Regions from separate parts of the Homo sapiens genome. Here region 2 is linked to region 1. The links come from fine-mapping of genetic effects on gene expression. A gene starts in region 1. The other region holds a variant in brackets. All regions are shown on one strand. Distances are from middle to middle.

The links. PIP is the estimated chance that this variant, and not a neighbour inherited with it, causes the effect. A credible set is the group of variants that fine-mapping cannot tell apart.
Region 2: its variant is the best candidate, but not a certain one, in a credible set for the expression of DDX59 in whole blood (INTERVAL, PIP 0.70).

What each region holds. Positions count from the first base shown.
Region 1 is chr1:200,668,344-200,672,608 of GRCh38, reverse strand. DDX59 (DEAD-box helicase 59) reads left to right here and starts at 2,702. Exons shown (of 8, transcript NM_001031725.6): 1 at 2,702-2,842. It overlaps DDX59-AS1 (DDX59 antisense RNA 1), which reads right to left and starts at 3,102. Exons shown (of 3, transcript NR_110787.1): 1 at 2,987-3,102. RefSeq lists a silencer at 2,549-3,288.
Region 2 is chr1:200,641,320-200,645,848 of GRCh38, reverse strand. It overlaps DDX59 (DEAD-box helicase 59), which reads left to right. Exons shown (of 8, transcript NM_001031725.6): 8 at 1,332-1,812. The coding sequence ends at 1,595. Among named protein-coding and RNA genes, the nearest start is that of KIF14, 23 kb to the right of the region's middle. The variant GTT/T (reference allele first, on the strand shown) is at 2,704.

The DNA.
Region 1 (4,265 bases):
TTTCAATAAGGACTGCATGTTAGCTACTCGTACTTCATCAATGTTAAACTACCTAAATTTGAGCCAGGCCCAGTGGCTCATACCTGTAATCCCAGCACTTTCGGAGGCCAAGGCAGGTGGATAGCTTGAGCCTAGCAGTTGGAGACCCCCGTGGGCAACATGGCAAAACCCCATCTCTAACAACAAAAAAATTCTCTCTAACAGGTGGGGTGTGCCTGTAGTCCTAGCTACTCTTACTTCATCAATGTTAAACTACCTAAATTTGAGCCAGGCCCAGTGGCTCATACCTGTAATCCCAGCACTTTCGGAGGCCAAGGCAAGTGGATAGCTTGAGCCTAGCAGTTGGAGACCACCGTGGGCAACATGGCAAAACCCCATCTCTAACAACAAAAAAATTCTCTCTAACAGGTGGGGTGTGCCTGTAGTCCTAGCTACTCGGGATGCTGAGGTGGGAGCCTCACTTGAGCCCGGGAGGTGGTTGCAATGAGCCGAGATCGCACCACTGCACTCCAGCCTGGGTAACAGAGTGAGACCTTGTCTCAAAAAACAAACAACCTCAACTGGAACATTTTTCTGTGAGTATAAAAGAGAATATCATTGTCTTTGGAGACACATGCTACAACTTACTCCTAAATGGTTCAGAAAAAAATATATATCTATAGTATACATATTTTATATATATAATCTCTCCTACACACTAATATAGCAAATATAGCAAACTGTGAACTTATGTGAAGGGTATACAGGAGTTCATTAATTCTGAAACTTTTTGATAAGGTTGATTTTTTCAAAATAAGTCAAAAAATTTTTTTATTTGAAAACACACTATAAACAGGGAGAAGATATCTGCAACACCTACAATTAACAAAAGAATGTTTCATTATATATACATATATACATTATATATACATTTATATATGTACACACACACACATCCTTAGAAGAGGAAGAGAAAACATGAATGAATAACATATTTCAAAGTGCTCAGCCTTATCAGTAATTACGGAATGCAAATTAAGACAAAAACATGGTATTTATTCTGGGTAGACTAGCAAAAAGTAAGAAGTGTGAAAATAACGAGGATTTAGAGAGAATTGTGGTCGGTACTGGTGGCAGTATAGATTGGTACAACCACTTTGAAAACATTTCTGCTTTATCTTTGAAAGCTGAACAGCCCCCATAGCCTCTGATGCCGCAGTGCTAATCCTAGGTTCAAATTAGAGTCCAGCGCATGCACAGAAGGTGAACAAGAATGCTCCTACTAGCCTTATTAGTAATTACTAGGGGCAGATTCAGGTTTTATGGGGTATGAGCTTATATAATTGGAAAAGAGGAGGCTTTTAAAGAAAAAGATTCAGAATGATGAATACAAATTAGGTTCAAAAGTGACTAATTTTTATAATGGCAAAAGAAATTACAACAATTAGAAATGTCACAAAACCCAGGAAAAGAGTTCTGTTATAGGTATGTGACCTACGAACTTGGGAAGTCTGATACATTTAGTCTGTGTGGTTCCCATCAATAAAGAAAATACTTAAAGTGCATTTATAATCCTATCCGCTACAGTATTGAATACATTCCTGACAGGAGAAAACTTCCTTTTGACTAGGCAGTAAGAAATAAATGTTCTGTTACTACACGTAACAACTTGGATGAACCAAAAAAACAAATGTTGAGTGATAAAAAGCGAATTCCAGGCTATATGTATTTTTATAAAGCTCAAAAAGAAGAAAAATACACCAATACACAGGAATGCATCCAAATATGATAAAACCACTAAAAATGGCAAAGAGGGACAAAACTGAAGATAGTGGTGGTGAGCTAAGAGGCCAGGAGTAGAATCCTGGAGATGCATAGATACATGCTAAATACTGATAACGTGGTGGAGTGATAGTTTCATTAGCATACTTTAAATTTTACATATTTGGTAAATATGCTCTTTTGAATGCATCGACTATTACACTGAAAATATTTTTAAATACTTAAGGCACCTGAATATAAGCTGGCTTCCCTCCTTCCTCTCCCGTGCTGTCTCCTCTCCCCCATCACTTCTCAACTACAAGCTGCTTGGGACACGTGGCTCCAGAGGTTGGCAAAACAGGGAAATGTCAGCCCACAAGGAACAAGAACCGTGACTTGTGTTATTTTCTTGTTGGTGTTGGGGTGGGGGGAGGGGTGCGGTGGTGCAGGAAATATTATCCAGCTTATCATATATGCCACATCAAGCTGACTCCGTTTAAATTTTGAGTGGCTCTACTAGCTAAAGCCAGAAAAGGGTTTTTGGGCCCAACGGGCAGAAGTGCCCCTCCCTTTTACACTCACACTTCCCACTTTCTAAGGGTGCCAGGCCCCCGCGCCGCCCTCCTGCTTCTTTCCGGACGGTCCAACTCTTTTCCACCAGTCCCAGCCCATTCGATTACGTAAATTCTTCCAAGAGGATTCCCAAACGTGCCCCTCCGTCCAGAACTCGCCCAGCCCGGACCAGTTCCGAGATTTACCACCAGCCCAGAGCTGGGCGGGGGCGTGGAAAACGCGAGGAGCCTTCCCGCCCCTCTCCTTCTCCCTCCCTCCCTCCCAAGCCACTGCCGGCTCCCAGCCGAGCTCCGCCCCCGCGGTGGCCCCGCCTCCCCGCCGCCCGGAAAGCGGGCTGCGGCCCCCTCCCAAAACCCGGGGAAGTGGATTCTACTCTACGCTCCGCTCCGCTCCGCTCCGCACCACCAACCCCGGGCCGCAGTCCTGACGAGCGGGTCAGGGCTTGTCGGGCGGAAGCCTGGCCTGGAGCCTGGAAGGGGGAGACGGCCCGAGCGGGAGCGGGAGCGGACGCGGCCTCAGTCCTGCGCGGGTGAGCGTGCCCCGGAAGCTTGGGCCCCTGGCCGCCCTGGTGCCCCTTCTCCGGGACCTGGGGCGCTAGGCCGCGGCGGCAGAACTGGTGCCCCTGCGCGGCCTTCCTCCCATCCTTACAGTTCCCCGTGTCCCAGGCCTCTACCCGGAACCGGAGCCCCGCCCGTCTCCTAGCAGCTCCGTGACGTGAAGCGCCTCGGGGTGCGGTGCCGCCGGGCGTGGGTGGGAGGCAACGCCCGAGGGGAGGGCCCGCCAGTGCACGGGGGTGCGGGGCGCGTTGGCGAGAATTGGAGGCCGCGCCGCCGCCAGCCGTCCGCCGTCCCGCCCAGCAGGAGCACGTTCCCTTTCGCCATTGGAAGACTGAGTTCCAAGCTTTTTCCTGCTCACCTAGAGCCGTCCCTGCCCCGCCCGCCACCCCCTGTACATTTTCGGAGATTTAGGATAGTAATTCTAGACCCTCGGTTGCATTTCTGTTGGAATTTTTCTGGAAGTTGGAATCTGGCAGTTTAAACAAAGAATTTTTTTAAGAAAAATATTTATTAGTATATTTGATAGTCCCCAGATTAGGTTAAAAGCCTTATTCCCAATAACTGTAATTTTGCAAAGACATGTTTTTGGTGTAAAAAGGTATAGATATGGGTTGATGAAAAGAATCAAACTCTGAAAAATATTTGAAGAGATTTATTTTGAGCCAGATTCAAGTGACCATGGCCAGTGACAGTCCTCAGGAGGTCCTGAGAACATGTGCCCAAGGAAATTGGGGTACAGCTTGGTTTTATCTATTTTAGGAAGGCGTGAGACATCAAATACATTTAAGAAATACATTGGTTTAGTTTAGAAAGGCGGGGCAACTCAATCGGTAAATGTAAACGTTATCTGGTTGAGGTTATCTAAAGACCTGGGATCCATAAAAAGGAATGTTCAGGCTAGAGATAAAGGATTGTGGAGACCAAGTTTTATTGTGCAGAGGAAGCTCTTAGATAGACTTTAGAGAGAGCAGGTTGTAAATTGTTTTATATTGGACTTAAAAGGGTGCCTGGCTCTTAGTTGATTATCTCCTGGATCTGGGAAGGAAGGAGGGAAAACAAGGGGAGATGGGAATTCTCACCAAATGCAGATTTTTCCTGCAAGAGACTTTGCAGGGGAGTTTTAAGGTACGACAAGGAAATATATTTTGGGGTAAAACATTTTTATTTTCTTCCTTGTTAGGCCAGAGTCAGATTGGAAAGTAAGTCACGATATACAGGGTTAAATAAAACCCATCTGATGAGAATTTATGGTTTGTAGGGCATGACTCTCCAGACCCCTTAGAAAGGAATTTGGGTAAGATAAAAAATTAGAGCTTAGTCCTCGTATGGTTGAGAGCTTGTGCTCTGGATCCACAGTGCCAGGGTTGTAACACTTAAGAATTGTGTGAGCTTGGA
Region 2 (4,529 bases), 27 kb after region 1:
CCTAGAGGCTTCCCTTCTTAACTTTTTTAGAAGTTTCTTTTACAGTGTTAAAAATGCCCTCTGTATTAGCAGAAACTGTCTACTCATTTAAATATTTCTGAATATAGACTTTAAGTTTTACATTTCAGTTAAGGAGCAGAAATTGACCATGATTGTGTATTTTCCCCCTCTTTTGAAGAGTTTCTTAGTATATTTTCATTATCTATTTGGAGACAAGTAGGTTTTGTGCCTTATTGATACTCCATAAATTTGTGTCCATTTAATTCTCTCAACATGAGAAATAACTAGCCGGGCCTGTAATCCTAGCACTTTGGGAGGCTGAGGCAGGTAGATCACAAGGTCAGGAGTTTAAGACCAGCCTGGTCAAGATGGTGAAACCCCATCTCTACTAAAAATACAAAAAATTATCCAGATATGGTGGCGGGTGCCTGTAATCCCAGCTACTTGGGAAGCTGAGGCAGAGAATTGCTTGAACCCAGGAGGCGGAGGTTGCAGTGAGCCGACATTGCACCATTGCGCTCCAGCCTGGGCAACAGAGTGAGACTCCGCCTCAAAAAAAAAAGACAAATAACTTTATGCAAAGATGATTTAGTATAAATCTCACATTTCAAGGCCTCTTAAGTAGCCTTGGAAGTAAATAGTCCTCTTGCTCTTAATGCAGGGGCTTTCAGAATTTTTTGACCTTAACCCACCCACAATAAGAAACATCTTTATGTCATTACCCCCAACACCACCCATACAGGTATAACTAAAACACAAGTTTCACAAATGATACTTACTTTTATTTTATGTGATCACTCTCTTATTTTCTGTTTGGTCTGTTCCATTAAAAATATGCTGGTGGAGGCCTACTAAATTGATTTCACAGATATATTGAGATGCATAATTCAAAAAATGCTGTCTGGATGAAGGTTAATCTTAGTAAAGCTCCTTTTTTTTTTTTTTTTTTTTTTGAGATGGAGTCTTTTTCTGCCACCCAGGCTGGAGTGCAGTGGCACGATCTCAGCTCATTGCAAGCTCCGCCTCCTGGGTTCAAGCGATTCTTTTGCCTCAGCCTCCCAAGTAGCTAGAATTTACAGGTGTTTGCCACCATGCCTGGCTAATTTTTGTGTTTTTAGTAGAGACAGGATTTTGCCACGTTGGCCAGGCTGGTCTCAAACTCCTGACCTCAGGTGATCCACCTGCCTCAGCTCCCAAAGTGCTGGGGTTACAGGCGTGAGCCACTGCACCCAGCCAGTAATGCTACTTTAAGTAATATTATTCATTTTCTTTCAAAAGACACTAAGATTTTACATGGACATCTTGAAAATGTTCTTTGCATTTTATTTCAGATTGGAAGAGTAGGAAGATTAGGTCAAAATGGAACAGCGATTACTTTCATCAATAATAATTCAAAAAGACTCTTCTGGGATATTGCAAAACGAGTAAAGCCCACAGGATCCATTCTTCCCCCTCAGTTATTAAATTCCCCATACCTTCATGACCAGAAGAGAAAGGAACAACAGAAAGATAAACAGACACAGAATGATCTGGTTACAGGAGCTAATCTTATGGATATTATCAGAAAACATGATAAAAGTAATTCTCAGAAATGATTTTCTCTGCCACTTGAATATTTTTTTTTATTGTATATAGTCAGCAAAAAATTATGGTTTGCATAAATGGAAATGTACATGAATTTTAAAAATTTTAAGATATTTTTAATTTAATAAAATTTATATAACTATATTGTATTTATTTCCCTTAATTCTTATAAATTAAAAACATCAGAAAATGAATTATTAAATAAAAGACAGTGTTTTCTTTTCTGGATGAAGTTTCTTTTTTCTTTTTAAAATAAACAGTCCTCAGAGCTACTGTCAGAACCAGAAACCTCCACAAAGACTCTGACTCGGATCAGTGATTGTTTTACTTGGTTCCCCCACAGTTCCACAAGCACATTGGCACTTAAATTACTGTTGAATAAATGAGAATTAGGAAAAATGTAAATGATAGAAACTGGAAGAAATTTTCAGAACCACTTTTGAAAGATAAATATGAAATGTCTACTTTCATTCTCAGTTGTTTTACCTTCTGCTTGGTTAATGCTGTTTTAAAAATAAGATAGGCTACTTATCAAAATAATGTCATTGTGTTATTGAATGAATGTTGCCCTGCTAATTCAATTAATAGGTTTTTTGTTTGTTTTTGTTTTTGTTTTTGTTTTGAGACAGAGTCTCGCTCTGTCGCCCAGGCTGGAGTGCAGTGGCACGATCTCGGCTCACTGCAAGCTCTGCCTCCTGGGTTCATGCCATTCCCTTTCCTCAGCCTCCCAAGTAGCTGGAACTACAGGCGCCTGCCACCACGCCCGGCTAATTTTTTGTATTTTTAGTAGAGATGGGGTTTCACTGTGTTAGCCAGGATGGTCTCAATCTCCTGACTTTGTGATCCGCCTGCCTCGGCCTCCTAAAGTGCTGGGATTACAGGCATGAGCCACCACGCCTGGCCTACTTGTTTATAAATAAAAGTGGCATGGCCAGAAAAACAGCATTTACAGGATATGTAGTTTTGTTTTGTTTTTTTGAGATAGCATCTCACCCTGTCACCCTATACTGGAGTGCAGTGGCATGATCATGGCTCACTACAGCCTTAACCTCCCAGGCTCCAACAATCCTCCCACCTCAGCCTCCCAAGTAGCTGGGACCACAGGCGTTGTCTCACTAT[GTT/T]GCTCAGGCTGGTCTCAAACTCCTGGCCTCAAATGATCCTCCTGCCTCTGCCTGCCAAAGTTCTGGAAAGGAAACTATTATTTTAACAAAAATAATATTATTTGAGAGACTGTAGTAATGCAAAAAAATATTAGCTATAGTATAACCCCACTGGTTTACTTAATTTGCTGGCAGTCTGGCTTCTTCCCACCACTGTACATACATGATCTTCCCGTGGTCTCTGTTGACCTTCTTAAACCACATGTTCTGCCAGCTCTCACTTTAAACTTTTTTATTGCGTCGGTCATTGTGGGCCACCCTTCTTGAAACCCACACTTTCTTAAGGCCAGGTGATGAGTTAGAGGTGGAGGAAAGAGCCCCTAACTCACAGGCTTATTATGAGAGTTAAGCGCAGTTGCATATGTCAAATACCCAATAGGGGAGAAGCCGGCTATCAGCGCCCTTCCCTTTACTTCCCTCTCGCCACACAATTTTCAGACTCCTGTTACTGGTTCTTCCTGCCTCTCTGAATCTTGACTTCTGCTTCTCATTCCTTAAGATCTTTCCTTTGGCAACTTCCTTGTCTCACATGTCTGCTCTTCTGTTGTCTGGGGTGCAGCAATGCAGTGGTTTCCTCAATTATGTATTTTAGAGACCAGAACATTAGACTTTTAAAAAAATTTGGTCCCAGTGTTGCCAGTATTTTTTTCCCAATTAAAGATCTTCTTTTTAAAAAGCTACCACCTATCATTAGTTCATGAAAGAAAAAACATGTAGTACTAAACAAGAGAGAAGGACTTACTCTCTGAATAAGAGACCATCCTTCCCCAGAAAGGACACTAATGTACTATATTATAAAATTTTAAATAATAGATTTTTGTGAGAATTACCATACAGTTTAAATTTTTAATTAGCTAAAAAAACTAATAATCACATACACTCTCAGACATTTGTTTTACAGTAACTATATTATAAAAATACTGAATTGGTTGCTTTATTGCCAGATTGAAGCAAACATCTTTTATATGGCAAACACCTTAAGGGGTGGCTTTTAGATTCTAGAATATTCAGTGCCACTTTATAAGATACTTTTAATGCCATTCTATTAGTATTTCTAATACCAAGCACATTTTTATTTTATTTATTTTTTTATTATTATTTTGAGATGGAGTCTCACTCTGCTGTCCAGGCTGGAGTGCAGCAGCGTTATCTTGGCTCACTGCAACCTCCACCTCCCAGGTTCAAGTGATTCTCCTGCCTCAGCCTCCTGAGTAGCTGGGACTACAGCTGTACACCACCACGCCCAGCTAATTTTTGTATTTTTAGTAGAGACTGGGTTTCACCATGTTGGCCAGGATGGTCTCCATCTCTTGACCTAGTGATCCACCCACCTCGACCTCCCAAAGTGCTGGGATTACAGGCCTGAGCCACCACACACAGCCTAATTTTTGTATTTTTAGTAGAAATGAGGTTTCACCATGTTGGCCAGGCTGGTCTCAAACTCTGGACCTCAGGTGATCCGCCCACCTTGGCCTCCCATGGTGCTGGGATTACAGGCGTGAGCCACCACACCCAGCCTAATTTTTGTATTTTTAGTAGAGACAAGGTTTCACCATGTTGGTCAGGCTGGTCTCAAACTCCAGGCCTCAGGTGATCTGCCCATCTTGGCCTCCCAAAGTGCTGGGAGCCACCACGCCCAGGCCCAAGCACGTTTTTTAAATCACCTTTTTATTCAACAAGTCAAAGTGGGTTCTTTTTTTTTTTTTTAGTTTTTTTGGTTTCATAACATCTTTACAAAGATCATTGCCACATATTTAAACTGTGACTCACTGATTAATTTAATAA